Linked DNA regions of Homo sapiens. The protein of the gene in region 5 purifies or fractionates together with the protein of the main gene of each other region. This does not show direct contact. Each region holds a gene or a part of one and is shown on either strand. Other genes may lie near its edges.

What was found.
Region 1: the proteins of CSTF3 (region 5) and UNC13D fractionate together in Homo sapiens (co-fractionation; one large-scale study listed by BioGRID). This does not show direct contact.
Region 2: the proteins of CSTF3 (region 5) and P4HA2 purify together in Homo sapiens (co-immunoprecipitation; one large-scale study listed by IntAct). This does not show direct contact.
Region 3: the proteins of CSTF3 (region 5) and PAPOLB fractionate together in Homo sapiens (co-fractionation; one large-scale study listed by BioGRID). This does not show direct contact.
Region 4: the proteins of CSTF3 (region 5) and FAIM fractionate together in Homo sapiens (co-fractionation; one large-scale study listed by BioGRID). This does not show direct contact.

Annotation. Positions count from the first base shown.
Region 1 is NC_000017.11:75,837,318-75,841,404, forward strand, and holds part of UNC13D (protein unc-13 homolog D), read right to left. Parts: intron 3,685-4,087; coding exon 3,640-3,684; intron 3,514-3,639; coding exon 3,445-3,513; intron 3,260-3,444; coding exon 3,190-3,259; intron 3,013-3,189; coding exon 2,908-3,012; intron 2,794-2,907; coding exon 2,701-2,793; intron 2,626-2,700; coding exon 2,522-2,625; intron 1-2,521. UniProt on the Homo sapiens protein: Plays a role in cytotoxic granule exocytosis in lymphocytes. Required for both granule maturation and granule docking and priming at the immunologic synapse.
Region 2 is NC_000005.10:132,221,237-132,225,323, reverse strand, and holds part of P4HA2 (prolyl 4-hydroxylase subunit alpha-2 isoform 2 precursor), read left to right. Parts: intron 1-4,087. UniProt on the Homo sapiens protein: Catalyzes the post-translational formation of 4-hydroxyproline in -Xaa-Pro-Gly- sequences in collagens and other proteins.
Region 3 is NC_000007.14:4,859,003-4,863,738, forward strand, and holds the start of PAPOLB (poly(A) polymerase beta), read right to left. Parts: upstream 3,029-4,736; 5' UTR 2,809-3,028; coding exon 895-2,808; 3' UTR 1-894.
Region 4 is NC_000003.12:138,629,085-138,633,171, forward strand, and holds part of FAIM (fas apoptotic inhibitory molecule 1), read left to right. Parts: intron 1-22; coding exon 23-72; intron 73-3,845; coding exon 3,846-3,995; 3' UTR 3,996-4,087. UniProt on the Homo sapiens protein: Plays a role as an inducible effector molecule that mediates Fas resistance produced by surface Ig engagement in B cells.
Region 5 is NC_000011.10:33,102,036-33,106,122, forward strand, and holds part of CSTF3 (cleavage stimulation factor subunit 3), read right to left. Parts: intron 4,030-4,087; coding exon 3,963-4,029; intron 3,883-3,962; coding exon 3,848-3,882; intron 3,659-3,847; coding exon 3,532-3,658; intron 1,150-3,531; coding exon 1,072-1,149; intron 305-1,071; coding exon 142-304; intron 1-141. UniProt on the Homo sapiens protein: One of the multiple factors required for polyadenylation and 3'-end cleavage of mammalian pre-mRNAs.

The DNA.
Region 1 (4,087 bases), on a different chromosome or scaffold from region 5:
GGCCTCCCAAAGTTCTGGGATTACAGACATGAGTCACTGTGACCAGCCAGGATTTTTTTTCTTTGTTTCCATAGATGCTTTTCAAATTGCCCAGATTGAGATCTTTGTGATTTTAAAACTTCAGGATTTCTTGCTGTTTTTGAAAAATTGGATTAGCTGGGCACAGTGGCTCACACCTGTAATCCCAGGACTTTTGGAGGCCGAGGCGGGTGGATCACCTGAGGTCAGGAGTTTGAGACCAGCCTGGCCAACATAGTGAAACCCCATCTCTACCAAAAATACAAAATTTAGCCAGGTGTGATGGCAGGCACCTGTAGTCCCAGCTACTTGGGAGGCTGAGACAAGAGAATCACTTGAACCTGGGAGGCAGAAGTTGCAGTGAGCTGAGATTGTGCCATGGCACTCCAGCCTGGGCGACAAGAGGGAAACTCCAGCTCAAAAAAAAAAAAGAAAAGAAAAGAAAAATAGGATCTATGAACCTGAGCCTTCGTGCACATGTGGCAAGCATCAGTGAGAACTTCCTTTCAGATGGTTTGGGGGGATATCACACAAACGAGGTCCCGTGGGAGGGCAGAGGATGGGGGAGAGGAGCAGCCTGGGGACAGGCCGAAGTCCCTATTGGACACTGCAGCCACCTGCATTACTGTGCTTGGGCCCTGCAGGCAAACCAGGTCCCTCCCCATCTGGTGCCTGCTCCAGTCTCCAGCCGCACCACCATTCCACCCTTGTCTCCGAATCACCCACCTGCCTGAGGTCCTAGCAGTACACAAGCTGACCCCAGCCCAGAAATGCACTCCCCTGGGCTCCCTCCGCCTCCCACTCAGACTCCAAGTCACAGCCCAGGCCTGAGTCGGCATCCTGCTCCTGTTCCTCCCCTGGCCAGCACTTGGCTGTGTCCCATCTCTTTTTTTTTTTTTTTGAGACAGAGCCTCGCTGTGTCGCCCAGGCTGGAGTGCAGTGGTGTGATCTCAGGTCACTGCAACCTCCACCTCCCGGGTTCAAGTGATTCTCGTGCCTCACCCTCCCGAGTAGCTGGGATTACAGACATGCGCCCCCACACCTGACTAATTTTTCTATATTTTGTAGAGACAGGATTTCACCATGTTGGCCAGGCTGGTCTCAAACTCCTGACTTCAAGTGATCTGCCTGTCTCGGCCTCCCAAAGTGCTGGGATTCCAGGCGCGAGCCACCGTGCCCGGCCGGCTATGTCCCATCTCTGCCCTACTCACATGCACTGGAATGGCTGTGACCCCCTGTGCCCTCCCCGGCATTCCTAGGACTTGACGTGAGTTGCCCTCAACATAGATTTGTCCTTATCAGCGCGTAGTTTTGCTGAGTTGAAGGCTATGGCATTGGGAAGCGGGGCTGGGGTTAGGGACCGGGTCCAAATTCAAATGCCCAGGACTCAGGAGACGAAAGCAACTGAAGTGGGCCCAATGGCAGCCATGATGGGCAGAGGCACACACATCGCTCCGCTCTGTCCACTCAAAAAAGCAGCAAAGGCTGGGCGCGGTGGCACGCGCCTATAATCCCAGCACTTTGGGAGGCCAAGGCGGGCGGATCATGAGGTCAGGAGATCGAGACCATCCTGGCTAACACGGTGAAACCCCATCTCTACTAAAAATACAAAAAATTAGCCGGGCGCGGTGGCTGGCGCCTGTAGTCCCAGCTACTCGGGAGGCTGAGGCAGGAGAATGGCGTGAACCCAGGAGGCGGAGCCTGCAGTGAGCCAAGATCGTGCCACTGCACTCCGGCCTGGGCGAAAGAGCAAGACTCTGTCTCAAAAAAAAAAAGCAGCAAAATGGCTCGGTGCAGTGGCTCATGCCTATAATCTCAGCACTTTGAGAGGCCAAGGCAGGCAGATCACCTGAGGTCGGGAGTTGGAGACCAGCTTGACCAACATGGAGAAACCCCGTCTCTACTAAAAATACAAAGTTAGCTGGGCGTGGTGGCGCATGCCTGTAATCCCAGCTACTCGGGAGGCTGAGGCAGGAGAATCACTTGAACCTGGAAGGCAGAGGTTGCATGCAGTGAGTCAAGATTGCACCATTCCACTCCAGCCTGGGCAACAAGGGTGAAACTCCGTTTCAAAAAAAAAAAAAAAAAGCAGCAAAATGATGACCCTGCAGTTCCAGCACTTGTGTTTCATGAGAAGCTGGAGATCTGGATGGTATGTCAAATCTCCAGATAGCTTTTTCTAATATTTTTTGGAAATGAGGTCTCACTCTGTGATCCGGGCAGGAGTGTTGGTGTGATCATAGCTCACTGCAGCCTTGAAATCCTGGGCTCAAGTGATCCTCCTGCCTCAGCCTCCCAAAGTCCTGGGATTACAGGAGTGAGCCACCGCATCAGCCGAATCTCTAGACTTTTTAAAATTGGCAACTGATTCAAAACTTAAAACACACATTTTGGGCCAAAGGGAACTCTGCTGAGAATTACACTTTGGGCTACCGGCTTGGAGGAGGGCAGGGGGCGTGGGGGGCTGGTGGCTCAGGGGTTCTGCCCAGGGCTGTGTACTCACGCCATGGACTGGTGGAAGTCGGATAGGTCCTTCTGTGTGGCGTGCAGAAAGAGGACGGTGGCAGCCTGGGGACTCAGCGACCCGTCCCAGGAGGTGCTTCCCGCCTGAGGGGAGCAGGTGGAGGAGTGTCAGGACCTGAAGGGCAGCCCCGGCTGCGCCCAGCCCCAGGAGGGCAATACCTCGTGCTGGGTGACCTCGTGGGACACAAGCTGCTGCAGGAGGTGGAGGTGCACGGTGTAGCTCGGCTGCGAGCGGCTGGCCGAAGTGGCTCTCTGCAATGAGGCCTCTGTGAGCAGACAGGGCCTCACACTGGGTGCAGCCAGCCCCGCAACCCAGCAGACCGCCGCAAGAGCTGGGCATGGCCACTGGCCCAGTACCCGACCTACCCGCTTATGGATGAGTTGGAACTGGAGGTGGCACTGGCCTCGGTCTGGGTAGGTCTCAGTGCGGGGTTCCAGGGGGTACCACTGGTCCTCTCGGCAGCGCAGGTCCTGACAGGCGGGGATGCCCAGCCCGTGAGCGTCAGAACCTCATAGAGTCGGGGCAGCGGAGGCGACAGGAGGTGGACCCCAGGCTCAGCTTTGTGAGGACACAGAGCCTCTCCCCAGAACCCCTCCCAACCCCCTCCCTCTGCCTCGCTCCTGGGCCCCTTTCCTCATCCTCCTCACCTGCAGCCTCAGAACCACGTTCCCCAGAAAGTCGTCCTGGCCTTTGTCCTTCCGGGCCTCTTTAAAGATCCTGCGTCAGGCAGGGTCCCATAAGGGGGACGCAGCAAGGGTCGGAAGGGATTAGGCTGGAATCCACCCCCGGCCGCAGCCACCTGGACCCCAAAGGAGCCTGCACCCCAGCATCCAGTGTGCATGTTGGGGGATGGAGGGCAAAAGGAGCCCCAACCCCTTCCCTGTGAGCCCTGCAACACGAACCTGCGAAGCCCATGCAGATCCGTGAGCTCCCCAAGCTTCTGTCGGACAGACTCCACAGTGTCCAGGTCCCTGGCAGGACAGAGGTTTGAGAAGGAAGCAGAGAGAGTGCCTACGACCTCTTCCAGGAGGAGGTTCCGCCTCTCTCACCCCAGATCCCTTCCCTTCCCATCCCTAGGGGCAGGCCAGGTCACTCACCACATGTCCAGATGAAAGCTCGCATTGGTGATGTCCTCAAACTCCCTGTATGGAGAAAAGGGCGTGGTTGAGGGCCCTGGAGGGTGGATGCCCCCAGACGAAGCAGTAAGTGACCACAGCCCAGAGCCATGGAGTTGTAGCCTATCCCTGCCAAACTTCCCTCCTCCCAGCCGCATCCCTTTTTTTTTTTTTTTTTTTTTTTTTGAGATGGAGTCTAGTTCTGTCCCCCAGGCTGGAGGAGTGCAGTGGCAGGATCTAACTCACTGCAACCTCTGCCTCCTGGGTTCAAGCAATTTTCCTGCCTCAGCCTTCCAAGTAGCTGGGATTACAGGTGCCCGCCACCACACCTGGCTAATTTTTGTATTTTTAGTAGAGACGGGGTTTCACTGTGTTGGCCACACTGGTCTTGAGCTTCTGACCTCGTGATCCGCCCGCCTAGGCCTCCCAA
Region 2 (4,087 bases), on a different chromosome or scaffold from region 5:
CTCCTGGGGTCTGTCAAGAGTTTACTATTATGCAGATGGAAGTTGGCAGGAAAAGCTGTGATGCAAGTACATGCAAGCCCAGCAGAGTGCTGGAGTGAGAGTTAAACTTCGGGAAAGTTGCTCACATCTAGCAATTTGGACATTTGAAGTTCCTTAGGGTAAGACATCAGCCTGTCCTAGAGCAAAGAGGGCTGGAAGGTCCTGTGGTCTGTGGGCTTTGTGTTACGGACATGGAATGAGAGATAGAAAGACAGTTTTTTTTTTTTTTTTTTTTCCTCAGAGCAGAGGAGAATGAAAAGTCTGGATGATTTACTGGAGCCCTAGAAGAGAGTTCTTGTTCAGCTGGTGTCATTGCAGGGCAGAGGATTAAGTGTTTGGGTAGAGTGCTCTCCAGCTCAGATGGAATCTATCTGAGCCTGGTAACAGGCCAGCATCTGCTCTGGACCTTTCAGGAAGTGCTTGCTTAGAGTGTGGCCTGTTTTGTACCTGGCACTCTGAGGGCCAGGGTGTAGTGGAGATCCTCAGGCCTGGGTACTTGTAGGAGCCTGGAATGAGCAGGTCAGAGGCATATAAGTACATGAGTTCCTAGAGTATTGGTCCAATCCCCCGCCTTTTGCTAGAGAACATTGCTTGATGAGCTTTAGAGCCAGTGATTGACCAGTTCCAGGGTTATCCCCTGATGATCAATGTACTACATTATACCTGATTCCAGTCTCTCCTGAATTAAATGTTTCATTTCTTGTGGTGCTCCTGGAACATGGAGATCGCCCAATTTCTGCCTTGTTTGCATCTTCACTGTTCCCTAGTCTGGACCTTCTTTCTCACCCAGGAATCAGCTGACTTGGGCTGGGCAGCTGGCTGCCTCAGGTCCACTGATGTTTCTCTGGTGCCCTTGGTACTAATGATTGACATAAATTATGCCTAGTGCAGGGCTACCTGCCAACATCTGTCATCACATTCAGTCCTCCAACAGCCCTATGAGATATAGGTCCTAGTATTGTCTCTATTATATACATGGGGAAACTGAGGAATCCTATAACTTGTCCAAGGTCACAAAGCCGGGAAGTGGTATAGAATTGGGGTTTAACTCTTAGTATGTCTGACCCTAGGGCAGGTGTGCCTGTCCATTTGACTGTACTGCCTTGCCCTGAGCTGGACTGGCTGGTTATTTGTGAGTGCTGTCATGTCTAAGGTAGGAGTGACTGCCCATCTGAACTTAAGGGACCATGTTGCTGTTTTCTGGGTCCATGTTGCGTTCCTCCCTCTGGTGAGATCCAGCCAGGCGTGTCATGGACCTGCTTTATGAACCTTTGGTGTAACCCATGATAAAGTCCTTAACCTGGGCAGGCATGTTCTTCCTGGGCAAAGTGTGGCTTCCCTGTTTGGGAGTCCATTGCACTTTAAGGTAACAGATTATTGAGTAGGACTGGATAGCTGCAATATCTAGCAGAGTGTGTTTTGGGTTTGACTCTTGGTTCTGTCATTGATTTGCTGTCAGATGTCAGATATGTAGGAAACCTTCTCTCAGCCTCAGCTGTTTGTCATTTGTATCTATCTTATATCTGAAATGGAGGTAGTTATCTAGCTTAGAAGGTTTGGGTGAGAATTAGATAGTAGAAATGAAAGATTTTTGGAAACAAATAGTGCTTATCTCAGACTATGTTCCCAGGAAACAGCCTGAGACAGAGCTTAAGTACTTAATGCTTTATTGGAAGGTGTAATTGCAGGGCAGCCAGGGTGAGGGAAAACAAAAGTGAGGTGCAGGCCTGTGCGATGGCTCATGCCTATAATCCCAGCACTTTGGGAGGTCGAGATGGATGGATTGCCTGAGGTCAGGAGTTTAAGACCAGCTGGCCAATATGGTGAAACCCCATCTCTACTAAAAATACAAAAATTAGCTGGGCATGGTGGCACACACCTGTAGTCCAAGCTACTCAGGAGGCTGAGGCAGGAGAATCCCTTGAACCTGGGAAGTGGAGGTTGCATTGAGCCAATATTGTGCCACTGCACTCCAGCCTGGGCGACAGAGCGAGACTGTCTCAAAAAAACAAAAGAAAAAAGTGAGGTATAAAGGAGGATGGGAGGTGGTGTTTTAGCAAGCTGGCTACTCTGCACAGAGATGTACTTGGTTACCCTATGAGGGCCCTTTGGTAGCCACTGGGGAGGCCAGTCTGGTACTTCAACAGAGTCTGGAGATAGTGAGAGGAGCCAGAGATTCTGGCGTGGGCCTGGATAGTCTCCTCCACTGGGCTGAGGCAAAGTAAATACCCTGGGACCTGGGAGATGGGTGAGACCAAGAGGTTGCAAGGTGGGACGTAAGATGCATCCAATATAGTGGTATATGGATTTTATCCTCAAGTGTAGTTCCCTTTTGTGGGTTAGTCTCATCCAGACTGCCAAGTCTCTGCCAAGACTATGACTGAAAACCCAACTTGGCTTTTGCATGTCAGTTTTAACAGCCTTCTCTGCTACTTCATTGTCTAGTTACTGAAGCAAGACTTTGTGGTGGTGATGGTACCCAGGTGGGGAAGTGGAAGTCAACCACTATTCATGTACCAGACTGAGAAAGTATGTGGATAGATACAGATAAACATCTTGGCTTTATTAGGTTCTTCGTGAAGGAGAATATTTTTTCACATAAAGTAGTTGTTGAAGATACGAAACCTGGCATGGTGAGATGAGGCTAGAGAGGGCAGTAGGGCCTGGTCACACACTCAAAAGGACCCTTTGGGCTAAAGAGTTTGAACTTTATCTTGACGGCAGTAGAGAGCCAAAGGAGGGCTTTGATAAACCATGCTGGCTACTTTGTAGAGCAGAGGTGGGAGGAAGGCCAGATGACATGTGGAGAGGCCAGTGTAGTGGGGGCCAGGATGCCTGTAGGGGAAGTTAGGGGTGGCTCAGATCAGGGTGATGACTGAGGCTAAGGAGAGTAGGGTACCCCCCATACTTGCCTAGGGTGCCGTGGCAGCAGCTTATAGGCCTGAATGGACATCCATGTGCTTTGGTGGCAGGGTCTCCTGGAGCCTCTGGATCCTCTTAGGCTGAACACACAGGTCCTTTCAGCCCTGTTATCCTAGAGTTGGAGGCAGCGGGGAGCCGTGTCCAGTTAGGTTTTCCCCCTTCACAGAAGGCAGGCAGGTTCTTGTTCAGTGCCAAGCAAGACCAGTTTGTTCTCAGCAAGCTCATGTTCTGTCTCTAGGCTGTTAAATACATTGTTAAAACTCAGGCTGTTGCATTTGGGTTGCAGCTGGGAGCTTGGCAGAGATTCTGCCTGATGAGGTAAGGAGAGAAGCTAAGGACGCTGCTGGTTTGCAGCTGGAAACATCTTTTCATGGCCATTTGGCCAGATTGTAAATGTCTTTTCCAAAGTTCAGGTTTGGTGGGACCTCTGGTTGTATGTCTTGGAATTGCCCTGTGTTTAGAAACAGTGCCAGTCGCCTGATGGGTGAATCACTGTTGCTGGGATGTTGGCAGGTTTTGCAGGACTTTCCTGTGGGGGTCCAAACACTAGGGCTGGCAGGGCCCGTTTGGAGTCTGTTTGAGAAGGGCCTGCTTTGTTTTCTTTACATTTTAAGCATATGATAAAATAATTTTAAAAATTGCTATAGAATTTCTTGTAGAAAGATTAGAGAAACAAGCATAAAAATAAAAAGAAATTATTTCACCAAGATATAGCCAGATGTATGACTCTTTTCTTGCATCTCTCTATATACACATATACATTAATTTTTCCTTACAAAAATGGAATTATAGAGTGCATATTATTGGGGCCCACTTTTCTCACTTAACAGTATGCTTAGATCTCTTCATGTTGATATATAGTATTCATTTTTAATATACTCCATAAAAACTCATTGTATAGAAGAAATGTAAAATCTTCTATTGTTGTAGTTTCCTAATTTGAACAAGTCTGTGGTGAAGTATTTTTTGTTGTGTTCCTGGTATGGGACAGACATTGTTCTAAACTCTGGGGATGCAGCACAGATAAAACTCAGTATTGGTTTTCTGCTCAAGATGTCACTTTGTTTTTCATAAAAGTGGGTTTGACATTGTTCACCTCCAGACTTATTCCAGTTGGATTCTGAGG
Region 3 (4,736 bases), on a different chromosome or scaffold from region 5:
ACAGATTAAAACCAGTGTGTCCTTTCTCCATAGTGTGCCATCAAAACCAAAGACCTACTAATGGTTGATGTCAAAAACATACCTTAAAGTTGACATTTCATTTTAAAGGGTTACAGCTACCTCATAGGGACTGAGCTAGATGTACTTTTATGCTTTCTCTGAAGTACAGTACACCGCTGCACAATGGTATCCAATTTTAAGATTAATAGTGAAGAAACCTCTTCAGGGAAAAATAAAATTCACCAATTTGAAAAATCTAAAATTAGTTCTACTTTCTAATAAAAAATATAAAGTGCCTCATCAGTATAAGGAATTCTGATACCAGTTTGTATTGCATATTTTCCCAACAATGCATCAAGCATAAATCCAGTCCAGATGTCAGTCACGGGTACAAACATAGCTGAAAGGTTTTTTCATTTTAAGGGCAGTAGTCCTTTGAAATAGTTAATGTAACTGTTGCTGATACATTAATAACAGTACCTCTAGCTGTCACATACTAATGTGGACTTCTGATCAAGACTGGCTCAGTAAAGGAAGTTACCAAATGAGCCTCAATCTATTTCAAGTCATATCTAGTCCCGTACCCCTCATTCTCCTTCCTTAGTATTTGAAGACAACAGGTTCAGTTGGCAGATATTGTTCATGGACCCTTGAGGTTGTTTTTAACCATTCAACCTGTTTTACTGAATTCTTGATAACAGGAATTGGATTTGCAGGGAGAACAGGGATACCGGAAAGATCTATACTGATGTTCCCTGAGAGGCCAATAGAGAAGATGCTGTCTGAATTTTTCTAATGGAGTTGTACTTGTCTTTGTATTGAGTTTCTCCTCTTCCGTTTTGGTTTTCTTGGTCCTTTCTTCTTTATGAGGCAAGAATATCCTCTAGACTCCAACTATAGGATTAGATATGTTTGTTGCTGAGTTTCCTGAAGGTCTGGATGGCTTATGAGACATGTTGAAGAAACAACTCTGGCGACCATGGCCTTTGGTGATGGAGAAATGGCAGGCTGAGAGACAGCGTGAGGAATACTTTCGTTTAATGCAACCCCTGAACTTTCATTGGTATTCACCTGTTGCAAGGAAAATTCAGTAGCCTGTATGTTAGCCACAGATGCTGTCATTACAGCCAAGGCAGGACTGTTTCTACCCTGAGAACTGCTAATCAATGGGCCTGTCTTCATAGTGCTAGTAGATGAAGGCACAGACATGCTGTTTTCACAGCCTGCAGACAAGTCAAAGCTGCTGTCGTTCAAATCTGTCAATCTTCTACCTTCTGTTGAGTGTGCTTTCTTGTCCTGAAGCACATGATGAGGCAGCAGCTGGTGAAGTTCCTTTCTTCTTAAATGCATTGCAGTAATTTTCATACCCATCTCAAACATCTTACTATTCACTGCTTGCCTATAAACAGTATCTGTGAAAGACTGGATATCATAGGTGAGATCAATGCTGAGAATTTCAGAATTATCTGGCTTTTTTAGCCCTAACCCAATCACCCACATTGTACGAAATTCTTCCATATCAGGATTTTCTTTGGGTGCTGGAAATGACTGTGGATTCACATGTGCCAGTGTAATAAATTCATTCTTCTCCAAGCTCCCAACCAGGATTCGGATCTTTGATTCCACCAAGCCCACCCATTCTAAATGTTGTTTTTCTGTTGATGCACTTGCCAGAAGTACAATATAATGCTTGTACTTTTGAAAGAAGCTTGGAGCTTCAAAGAGTTTGGACCACTCTGCCTTACTTAGCAAAATCTCGTGTGTGATAGCAAGCCCCTGTTTAAACTCCTCAATCATGACCATCCTGGTTGAAATAGACACGTTGTATGTGGAGTTCTGCTGTGGGTATGCTGGTGTGATGATAGGCATAAGATGGTACCTATCACTGGGATTTACTCTTGGGTCCCATACAGGCAAATTAAGATTCCGTTCTTCAGGCTCCTTCAGTAACACTGGGTTTGGCCATTCCCATTCTGAAAATACCAAGAAGAATTTCCGTACAAGAGTTGACGCTACTGCATTTGGATAAAGCTGACAAGTTCTTGCTACTAGCATGGCCCAGGAAACACCTCCGAGGAAACCTAATATATTGGAATAGATATTGTGGCACTTGGCCCACAGTTTGATGGCTCTCAGAGTCAGCCTGAAGTTGTCAATGTTTGGCACTAGATGTAAAATTTCATCGGTTACCCGGCAACCATTAAGGCTTCTTATGCATCTAATGTCTAAATTTTTAAGTAGACTGTCATCTCTTAAGTCCAAATCTTCTGGAATAGTCTGTAGTGCTAATCTTGCAAATAAAATATCAATCTCTATCCCATCAAAACACAGTTTGATAACTGGCACAAATGCCTCCTCGACAGCCCTTAAATCTTTCACTTCCTCCTGTAGTTTCAGTTTAGCATAGAATGAGGTGAAAAAGTCGCTTCGATCCACATGACTTGGTGCAACGCACAAGGCGTCAATATCTGCGCCTTTCGTATGTACTCCTAATCTGTAAGAGCCAAACGTAAAAATCTTTCCTCCAACGTTTTCAATTACAGACTGGGGAAGACTCTTGCTTTCACTGATTTCGCGTATCCATTCCTTTACCAGATTATTTAATTTTTCCAAAACTAAAATCCTGCGCTGCAGTTCCTCTTCCTCTTCGAAGACCCCGAAGGGCCTGAGGGTTTCTATTAGCCTCTGGGTGAGGAGGCAGTCCGTCTCCTTGGGGACCGCTAGACTGATAGGCGAGGAGACGCCGTAGCGATTCGGCGGCGGCGCCGGCTGCGGTGGTCCCTGGGTTGTCACCGGAAACGGCATCATCTTTCAGCGCCCGCCCCGCCAGGGCACGTCCCCCACCACCGCGACCTTCGCGGCCGCCGCCCGGGTCATGATCCGCTGAGGCGGAAGGGCAGGGCTTCTAGCTGCCCTGGTCCGACCCCACTCCCACTCCCGCTGCGCGCCCGCCGCTTCAGGAGCTTCTCCTCCTTCCCCTCAGCCCCAACATGGCGCCAGACCCCTCAGCGGCTGCGTTCCAGAACCTACCGTACACGCGCGGGCGCCTGCGCACCCGCCGCCAGCGCGAGGGCTCACGGGAGCCACAGCGTTCTGGGCTGGGGCTCCTACCGCTGCGCGGGGGGCTATACATGGGGGTGGGCAGGATTCACGTTGTTGATGACCGGCCAAACTCAACCCTTTATTGCCACTATTTTACATATTTGCCCAACTTTACCCATCTAATTCTTTGCTCTCCAAGTCCCTTGACATCGCAGATGTGCATCCTTTTTGGGGGCACCCTCAGCACTCTTCACCCTAGCGTGCACCCTTTGGAAGTCCAAAGACCCCTTCGTGGTGGGAACCCGCGGTGGAAAGCAGCTTCTGTCTTGTTTCTTGGGCCGTTGCTGGACATTGGTTTAGCTGGGGCAGCATTTCGAGGTCGACATTTGTGTTCTGGCCATGCTTTAAGGGCGCGATACTGCTGTCCTCTGGTTCCCGTTGAGAATTCCGCAGCTAGGTGAACTACTGCTCGTCTGTCTTTTCTTATGGCAGCTATAAAAGTGTCTGTCCCTAGTGCCCTGTGATCCCACCACTGTGTGTCCAGGCATAGATTTCTCTTTAATAATCTTACCCAGGCTGGGCGCAGTGGCTCACGCCTGTAATCCCAGCACTATGGGAGGCCGAGGCGGGCAGATCACCTGAGGTCAGGAGTTGGAGACCAGCCTCAACATGGAGAAACCCCGTCACTACTAAAAATACAAAATTAGCCGGGCGTGGTGGTGCATGCCTGTAATCCCAGCTACTCGGGAGGCTGAGGCAGGAGAATTGCTTGAACCTGAGAGGCAGAGGTTGCGGTGAGCCAAGATCACACCATTGCACTCCAGCCTGGGCAACAAGAGTGAAACTCTGTCTCAAAAAAAAAAATAAAATTAAAAATAAAAATAAAAAATAAAAAATATAATCTTACCCAGGATACACTATGATTCCCGAATCAGAAGTCATGCTTTTTATGATCTCCAGAAGCTTCTTGGGCACTTCCTGGGAATATGTTCTCCCACTTGTCTCCTGATTCTCTTCATCTAGACACGTTGTCAACCTTCTCACTCTGTCCTCCATGTCTCTTAAGCCGTGTGTCTTTCTGGGTGATGCCAGATTACCTCCAAGTCCTCTCTTCAGTTGTATTTAGTCTGCTGTTTAAGCATCATTGAAATATCCACTTAAATACTTATATTTCACTATTTTGTTCTTTTCCAAGCTTCTCTGCCTTTTAGATGGCATTCTGTTCTTTCATGTTTTTCCCCCTACCTTTTATTTCTTTAAACGTGTTAAACATACTTATTTAGTACTCTATAACTAATTATTCTAATTCCGAATGCTCTTGAGAAACTGTATAGTTTGTTGTTATCCAAGAACTCAGAGTGGTATTACCTCTTGGGTCTTGTAATTTTGGATTGTGAGCTCATTTCTGGTGAAGCTTGGAATGCCTGTGTAGACGCTGTGTCCTTCCAAAGAGGATTTGCTTTGTTTCCAGTAGATGTTCTTGTACACTATAGAATTGCAGTCAGTGTAATTTCTTATCCAGGGATTATCCACAACATCTAGATGGTGCAACTTTGAACCCCAAATACATGTAAGAGGACATGTGGTTTTCATTTTTAAGGAACAGTCTTTAGTTTTTCCCACCCAAGTCAAGAGAGAGAACTTCCTTTGCCATCTCCTTTCACCAGGTAGCAGATTCTTCTTACTCCATTTTT
Region 4 (4,087 bases), on a different chromosome or scaffold from region 5:
AGTTTTTATGTTACCTTTACAGAAAAAGATGCTATGGACGTATGGTGCAATGGTAAAAAATTGGAGACAGCGGTAAGTTGACTATTTGATGACTCTAAGTGCCATGTGTCTCAGTTACCATTGAATTGTTGCTGCATTTCCTAATTATAGAGATCTTATAATGAATCAAGGCCCTCTTGATAAAAACAAAAAAGGGATTAAGTACTCCTGACTTCAGATTCTGAAAACCTTTGCCAGATGGTGCCTGGTACCGTGAGTTTGGAAACAACTCATGTTCTTAGCTGGCACTAGCTTCATACTCTCCCTTTCCTGTCCTGGACCAGGCTCCAGCATAGCAAGTAAAATACCTAAAAAGAGCCCCTAGTTAAAAAATTATATCCCCAGAGGTTGGTGTCCTCTTGTGTTGATCCATTTGAAGTGGTGCGTTATCACTGCTTCTCAAACTTGCATGCACAGAAATTGCCTGGAATCTTGTTAAAATGCTAATTCTAACATTTCCCTAGGTGCTGCTAATGCTACTGGTCCACAGATCACACTTTAGGAATGCTTTACACCATACACTCAAAGCAGATGGTTCTTTTCTGAAAGCGAGATTTTTGTAAAATGAGTGATACAATATCAGATGACACGAAGGTAGACGAACAGGAAAGGGCACTCTCACGAACCCCGGAGGACAAGTGGAATTTTAGACCAGCAGTGCCAATGCGAGGAGAAAGAGGCTCCCCCAGTCACTGTGGCCAGGCACACTGAAATCCCCATCTAGATAGACTCCAGTGTGTTTGACTTTTGCTATCAGGTGCTTGGATTACTATGGCTGTGGATGGGATGAATGTAGGAGTGAATTTCAAGCAGGAGTGAAACAGTAGTAGTGTGCACAGGGGAGAGAGTGGGAAACAGAAAGTGTGGGACTAGGAGCCGAAATCACTGGGTGGTAATCCCCATGTCTTATGGGGTCTGTGGGCCAAGCAGGGAGTGCTATCCCTGGGACCCACCTTTCATGCTGGCTCCAGATGTGAACATCAGGGCTAGAGATAATCGGAAGCTCTCTTCTCTGGTCACATTTTGCATGTTGTAGTTGCTTTTATCTCATTTGTATAGTATAGGTTTAAGACAGTGAGAAAAGGTGATTTTGGTAGTTGGAGGAAAGGAGGTCTGGGATTAATTCATTCAGAAGACCACCTAGAACCTACTTGGTCTGATAGCTGTTTCTGAGGAGGTGACAAAACCAGAAATCAAAAATTACAAAGATGAAGCCACACGTGGTAGCACAGGTCTGTAGTGGCTTCCTACTTGGGAGGCTGACGTGAGAGGGACCCTTGAGCCTAGGAGTTTTAGGCCAGCCTGAGCAACATAGTGAGACCCATCTCTAAAAAAATTAATCAATCAATTGAAATTTAAAAGTTACGAAGATGAATGCTTTTCTGTTTCTGAGTCCTGAAGAATTTAATTTGGGCTCACTCTAAATTGAGTGCTTGAGCTGTTCTCTGGGTTAAATCTACTGATAGAGACTTCTTTTATGCAGAGAGGCTTGGAGAGTGCTTCAGTATTTTATGGCCCCCTTTGGAAAAACTCCAGTTACCACTAACATGGATCAGATACCTACTGTGTGCCCAATGCCATACCTGGTGGTTCTTCCTGTTCTTTTTTTCCTACCCTGGAATTCTCTAGATAGGGAATCAGCACTTTTGAATTGCATTTCCTCCCATATTCAAGAAATTCTCCAGTGCACATGTAAAGAGAATGCTGTTTTATGGTATTAAGAATATGGTTGTACTGGGCGAGGTGACTCATGCATGTAATCCCAGCACTTTGGGAGGCTGAGGCGGGCAGATTGCTTGAACCTAGGAGTTAGAGACTAGTCTGGGTGACATGGCGAAACCCCTCTCTACTAAAAATACAAAAATTAATAGAGCATGGTGGCACATGCCTATAGTCCCAGCTACTCAGGAGGCTGAGGTGGAAGAATTACCTGAGCCCAGGGAGATTGAGGCTGCAGTGAGCCAAGGTTGCACCACGGCACTCCAGCCTCGGTAACAGAATGTGAGACCCTGTCTCAAAAAAAAAAAAAAAAATGCAGTTGTAACTTTGGGAGGCCAAGATGGGAGGATCATTTGAGGCCAGGAGCTCATGACCATCCTGGGCAACATGATGAGGCCCTATCTCTATAAATTTTTTTTTTTAAGTTAGCTGTGTATGGTGGTGTGTACCTGGTCCCCGCTGCTCAGGAGGCTGAGGCAGGAGGACTGCTTGAGCCCAGGAGTTCAAGGCTGCAATGAACTACAGTTGTACCCCTGTACTCCAGCCTGGGTGGCAAGAGCAAGACCCTGTCACACACATACACAAGGAATGTTGTTGTGGTTGTAAAAAGGTGAAAATAATATTCATCCACATGTCTTTGTTTTGTAGTAATTAACAGGAAACTACATGTGTTTGGAAATAGCTCTTTATAACACAGTTGCCTTCTCATTGTAACTACAACCTAGTTTGCAGGGCAGTTTGGGCAGCCCCATATCTAGGCAGCCTTCCCCAGTACTGTACGTACCCACAACAAACTCATCTTGTTGCCTGTGAGTTACAGCTTATTTTCTCCTTTTTATCTCAAAGCATCGTGCCAAAATTATATATTTGTCCAATTGCCAAGAAGCTACGTATATAGATTGTATTACCTAACCCTTGCCCTTTCTTCCGAAGTCTTTTTTCAAGGCTCAATATTAAAAATGGGGACAAGAACACACTGCACCCAAGGACATGCTTGTGGTATTCAGCATACCTCCCATAAGGAGCCACGGGCCACATCCTTCCCAGAGCTAGGAAAAGGCTTCTCTCCCTGAGGCATCCTGTGCCTTCTTTGGCTTGGTTTGTTAACTGGGGGGCCTTGTTCTATCTACTTTGGCTGCCAGGAAGCTAATAGCCAGGGGGTTTAAGTCTGATTTTTGGTTTCTTTGCTTTCTGGCATAAATCTTTTTTTTATCCTCTAAGCCTCTTCTTTCTTCCTTCCTTCTCTGCGCTACCTGGCGCTAATCTTTTTACTCTAGATCACTGCTACTCAATCAAAGCATAATATGAGGCACAGATAGGACCTTCATGTGTAATTTTAATTTATCTAGTATCCATATTTGAAAAAATTTTAGGTGAAGTTAAATATTATATTTGATTTAAATCAATATACCAAAAATAGTATTTAACATGTAATCAGTATAAAAAGTTATTTTATACATTTTTTTGTTTCATACTAGGTCTTCTAAATCCAGTGTCTATTTTATATTTAAACAGCATATCTATTTTCAGACTAGTCAATTTGAAGTGCCCAATAGCCACATGTGGCCAGTGGCTACTGTATTGAACAGAACAGGTATAGATTTAGTGGTGTTTGGTTTTGTTATATGTATATTTTACTGTAAGCCACCTTATACCCAGAGGAATCAGATTTTCAGAGTGGCTAAGAACACTCCATCCCTGGCTGGATGCAGTGGCTCACACCTGTAATCCCAGCACTGTGGGAGGCTAAGGTGGGTAGATCACTTGAGGTATATTATAAATAACTAATAAATGTCATATTTATCATTTTTATTTTTGAAAACATAGACACATAGTCATGAGGTTTATATTCCTCCCCCAAGAATTTAAGATTCTTAAGGATTGTAGGGGTTATGAAAAGGAAACTTTCAATTCATAACAGAAATGTAAAAGCATCTAAGTACAAGCTTTAGACTTTGTTTTTCAAAGCTTATTGTTTAACTAATACATTATTTTATTGCACTACTAGTACTTTTAGATGGTGTGAATGCTCTAGACAGAGATAAAAGTTTCTGCACCACTAATTCCTTCTTCTTTTGTTGCTCCAGGGTGAGTTTGTAGATGATGGGACTGAAACTCACTTCAGTATCGGGAACCATGACTGTTACATAAAGGCTGTCAGTAGTGGGAAGCGGAAAGAAGGGATTATTCATACTCTCATTGTGGATAATAGAGAAATCCCAGAGATTGCAAGTTAATGAATTTTCATCTTAAGAAGTAAAGATCAGGACTTTTTAATTACTGTGGTAATTAAATGTGTTCAGTATGTACTTATCAGTACATTTAGTCT
Region 5 (4,087 bases):
GGAGATAGATCTATAGGAATTATTGAATCTGAAGAACAAAAGAAAAAAAGATTAGGGGTAAGAAAATTTTAGTAACCTATGGGGATACCAAGTGGCCTAACATACATGTAACTGAAGTCCCATGAGGGTTAATCATGTTACCTCTTTTTGTTATAAGGGTCTGATCCTCTGTACGAAGAGGGTTGCTCTTTTCCCACTGTATATATTTCTTCCACATATCTACTTGTTGAGCTTCTTGAGGAGTATTCTGAGGAGGCACCGAGGGAGCATTACGGTCCAAGCCTTTCATTACTGTCTCATATTCCTAGACAACAAGGATTTAGAATTCTTTGGTGAGCCAGGAACAACTGAGATATATGGCGGATGGGGTAGATCAGTTTGGAAGACTGTTCAAGATGCCTACTTTTTCCAAATACCACTTTGTTAATATAATCTAAAAACTATTTAAGAGTAGAGAGAAAGATAAGAGTATTACCCACTCAAGAACAGGTTCCCAGGAGTGGGTAAACAAAACACCCATGGGCCCTCTCTGTAAGTGATCTAGGAGGTTACTTTCCAGGATGTAAGAGTTGACAGATCAATAGGATTGAAGATCTGGTGGCATTATTATTGCCATCTTTGGAGAAACTGTCTTTTAAAATTTCAATAGTTTGTATTAATAGGCTATTTTTCCTAACTTCCAAGAGTGTCAATGAATGGAAAGGTATGCACACAATCAAAATGTGTCCCTGAGAGCTATGTTATTAGACCACAGAGTAATACAATATTCAGATGAACCCAAATAATAGAGGGAAAAGAATTACTTCATCAATTCTAAGTAGAGCCTTGTCTCTCTCTATGTCTTCTGTTTCCATATTTTAAAAAACAATTTCTTCTAAACCCAATTTATTATATTTTGTTCTTACAAAGAGAGATTTCATTTCAAATATGTCATCTCCTCAGACTTTGCAATTAATTGCTGTTAAGATTGCTAATGACTGAAAATATCAAGAGTAATACCAGACAGGGAAAGCTCTGCTGTAAACAACAGACTCATAATAATCATTAAAATAGCCTGATGGAATTCCATACCTTTGCTACACGTCTAGCATTCATATAATCTCTACTCCGATCTTCAATCATTTTTTTAGCTAAATGAATATTGATACCCTAGAAAAAAACAAAAATATTTTAAAATTAAGTATAGTTTCTTAAAAATTAGTACAATACAGTTAATTTATTCATTTACTAAATAACTTTAAATTTTTATTTTAAAAGATTTCTTGTTTAATAAAGGTTCATACAGCTCATGAAAAGCAGGGAAAAAAGGTTCAATCACATTATACATTTCCAAGATCAAGGAGGATGTGCTTATGTCTTATGAGCTGGCAGTAAGTTTCCATTTATCAGGAACTTTTAAAGATAGAATCATTTGAAAAGGCTCAATAATTTCATATAAGATTCTACTGAAAAAAAAATGACATGGCTCATGCCTGTAATCTTAGCACTTTGGGAGGCCGAGTTGGGTGGATCACTTGAGGTCAGGAGTTCATGACCAGCCTGGCCAACATGGTGAAACCCCGTTTCTACTAAAAATACAAAAAAATTAGCTGGGTGTGGTGGTGTGCGCCTGTAATCCCAGCTACTTGGGAGCTTGAGGCAGGAGAATTGCTTGAAATGGCGAGGCAGAGGTTGCAGTGAGCTGAGATCATGCTATTGCACTCCAGCCTGGGCGACAGAGCGAGACTCTGTCTCAAAGAAAAAAAAAATATGTACAGATTCATCTGGGTGAATAGCCATGGCTTGACTTTGATAGCCCTTTTCTTTTTCTTTTTTATAAACAGAGTCTTCCTCTGTCACCCAGGCTACAGTGCAGTGGTGCCATCCTAACTCACTGGAACCTTGAACTCCTGGGCTCAAGTAATCCTCTTGCCTCAGACATAGGACTACAGGTGTGCCCTGCCAGATCTGGCTAATTAAAAAAATTTTTTTTGTTGAGACATAGTCTTGCTATGTTGCCTGGGCTGGCCTCAAACTCCTGGCCTCAGGCAATCCTCCCACTTCAGCCTCCCAAAGTGCTGGGATTACAGGCATTAGCCATCACACCTGGCTAATAGCCCTTTTCTAACTAGTTCTGTTGTATAACACTTTTTAAAAAGACAAACAGAAGTAGCAAGGAAAGATAAACATTACCACTCAGTGAGTACTCCAAGGATTCTAAGACCCTTTCAGGGAGTCCATGAGATCAAAATAGTTGTCATTATAACACTAAGACATTATTTGCCTCTCTCATAAAATACAGGAGTTTTACAGAGGCTACGTGACATTTAGTATTATAACACACTAAATGGAAGCAGATATGAAAATCCAGCTGTTTTCTATTACACTAGATATGAAAGAGATTTGTGAAAATATAAAACAATGCCACTCTTCTCACTACACACTACATTTTTTGTTTTGGAAAATACAGTTTTTGGCCAGGCATGGTGGCTCGTGCCTGTAATCCCAACATTTTGGGAGGCCGAGGCGGGCTAATTGCTTGAGCTCAGGAGTTCAAGGCCAGCCTGAGCAACATGGAGAAACCCCATCTCTACAAAAAATTAGCTTGAGAGTGGTGGGGCATGCCTGTAGTCTTAGCTACCTGGGAGGCTGAGGTGGGAGAATCACCTGAGCCCAGGAAGTTGAGACTGCAATGAGCTGTGATTGTGCCACTGCATTCCAGCCTCGGTGACAGAGTAAGACCCTGTCTCAAAAAAATAAAAACAAAAAATTCTTTGTGATCTTCAATAACTGTTAAAATCCAAAAACCATAAAGTTTGAAAACCACAGCTGATGCCTGTGAGGGAACAATTTCACTACCCTATATAGTTCTTCCAAATCACAATATACATACGAAAAACTTTCTTTTTTTCTCTTTAGAGACGGGCTCTCACCATCTTGCCCAGGCTGGTCTCAAACTACTGGGCTCAGGCAATCCTTCCATCTCGGCCTCCCAAAGTGCTGGGATTACAAGTGTAAGCCACCATGCCCAGCCAAGGAACTTCCTTTTAATGCTAGAGCTTATTTGGCATGTGTATTTATGTATTCAGATTGATTAGCTCAGTTATTAAAAGTAGATACCAATAACACAAAGATCTTGGATTGTAGCCACACACTTCACAAATTCAAACCAATCATCACATCACTGTAATCAGGTGAAAAAGGTGCACAGCAACCAAAAAATAATTCCCAAAAGGTACTATTGGAAACATAATTCCCAAAAGGTACTGTTTTATAGGTCAATGACAATGTGTATGTGTGTGTATGAATGTGTGGATATGGCTTAGCAAAGAATAAAAATAGTTTTATAAGAACTATTGTTCTTCAGAGTATCCTCTAAAAAATAACACTATATGGAGACTCTCAAACCTTGCAAAAACATTATAGTGCTTTCATTACAATCAATAAAAAAAGTGTAACACTGATACAGAAAGGCTATAATCTACAAATCCACAATGCATAGAAATTAAAATGGCTTGGTTTATAATAAACAACTACTCTGACCTAATTTACCTCTTCATACTTGTTATAGTCTCTCCAGAGCTGTTCAATGTTGATCATCGGATTAACACAACCTCGTTGATAAACTCTTCGGACAGCTGTTATTCTTTGATTTTCTGCATAAGATCCTACAGCTTCCCTGAGATTGGATAAGAAATGCCATCAATTATATTATAACCAAATCTCATTCAACCCAGCAATCTCACTACTGGATATCTACCCAAAGAACAACTCTATGGAAAATAGTATGGAGATTTCTCAAAGAACTAAAAATTATATTTTAGCTAAATCAACTGTAGATGTAAAAAAAAACTATACAAATACTTACACGCCTTTTAGGAAATTGATGTAATCCACCCAAATCTAAGAAATAAAATGAAATGTTAATATCTTTCTTGGTATTCTTACATTTAAGTGCATACATTAAAAAGTTTTAACTCTACCTGATAGGACATAATTTCCATTCCAATTTTATCCAGTGCAAAGTCATATGCTTGAGCCATTTTTTCTCTGAAATGAACATGAAAGACGTGGTTTTTAAATTTTTTTGTTATTAAAATTTATCTAC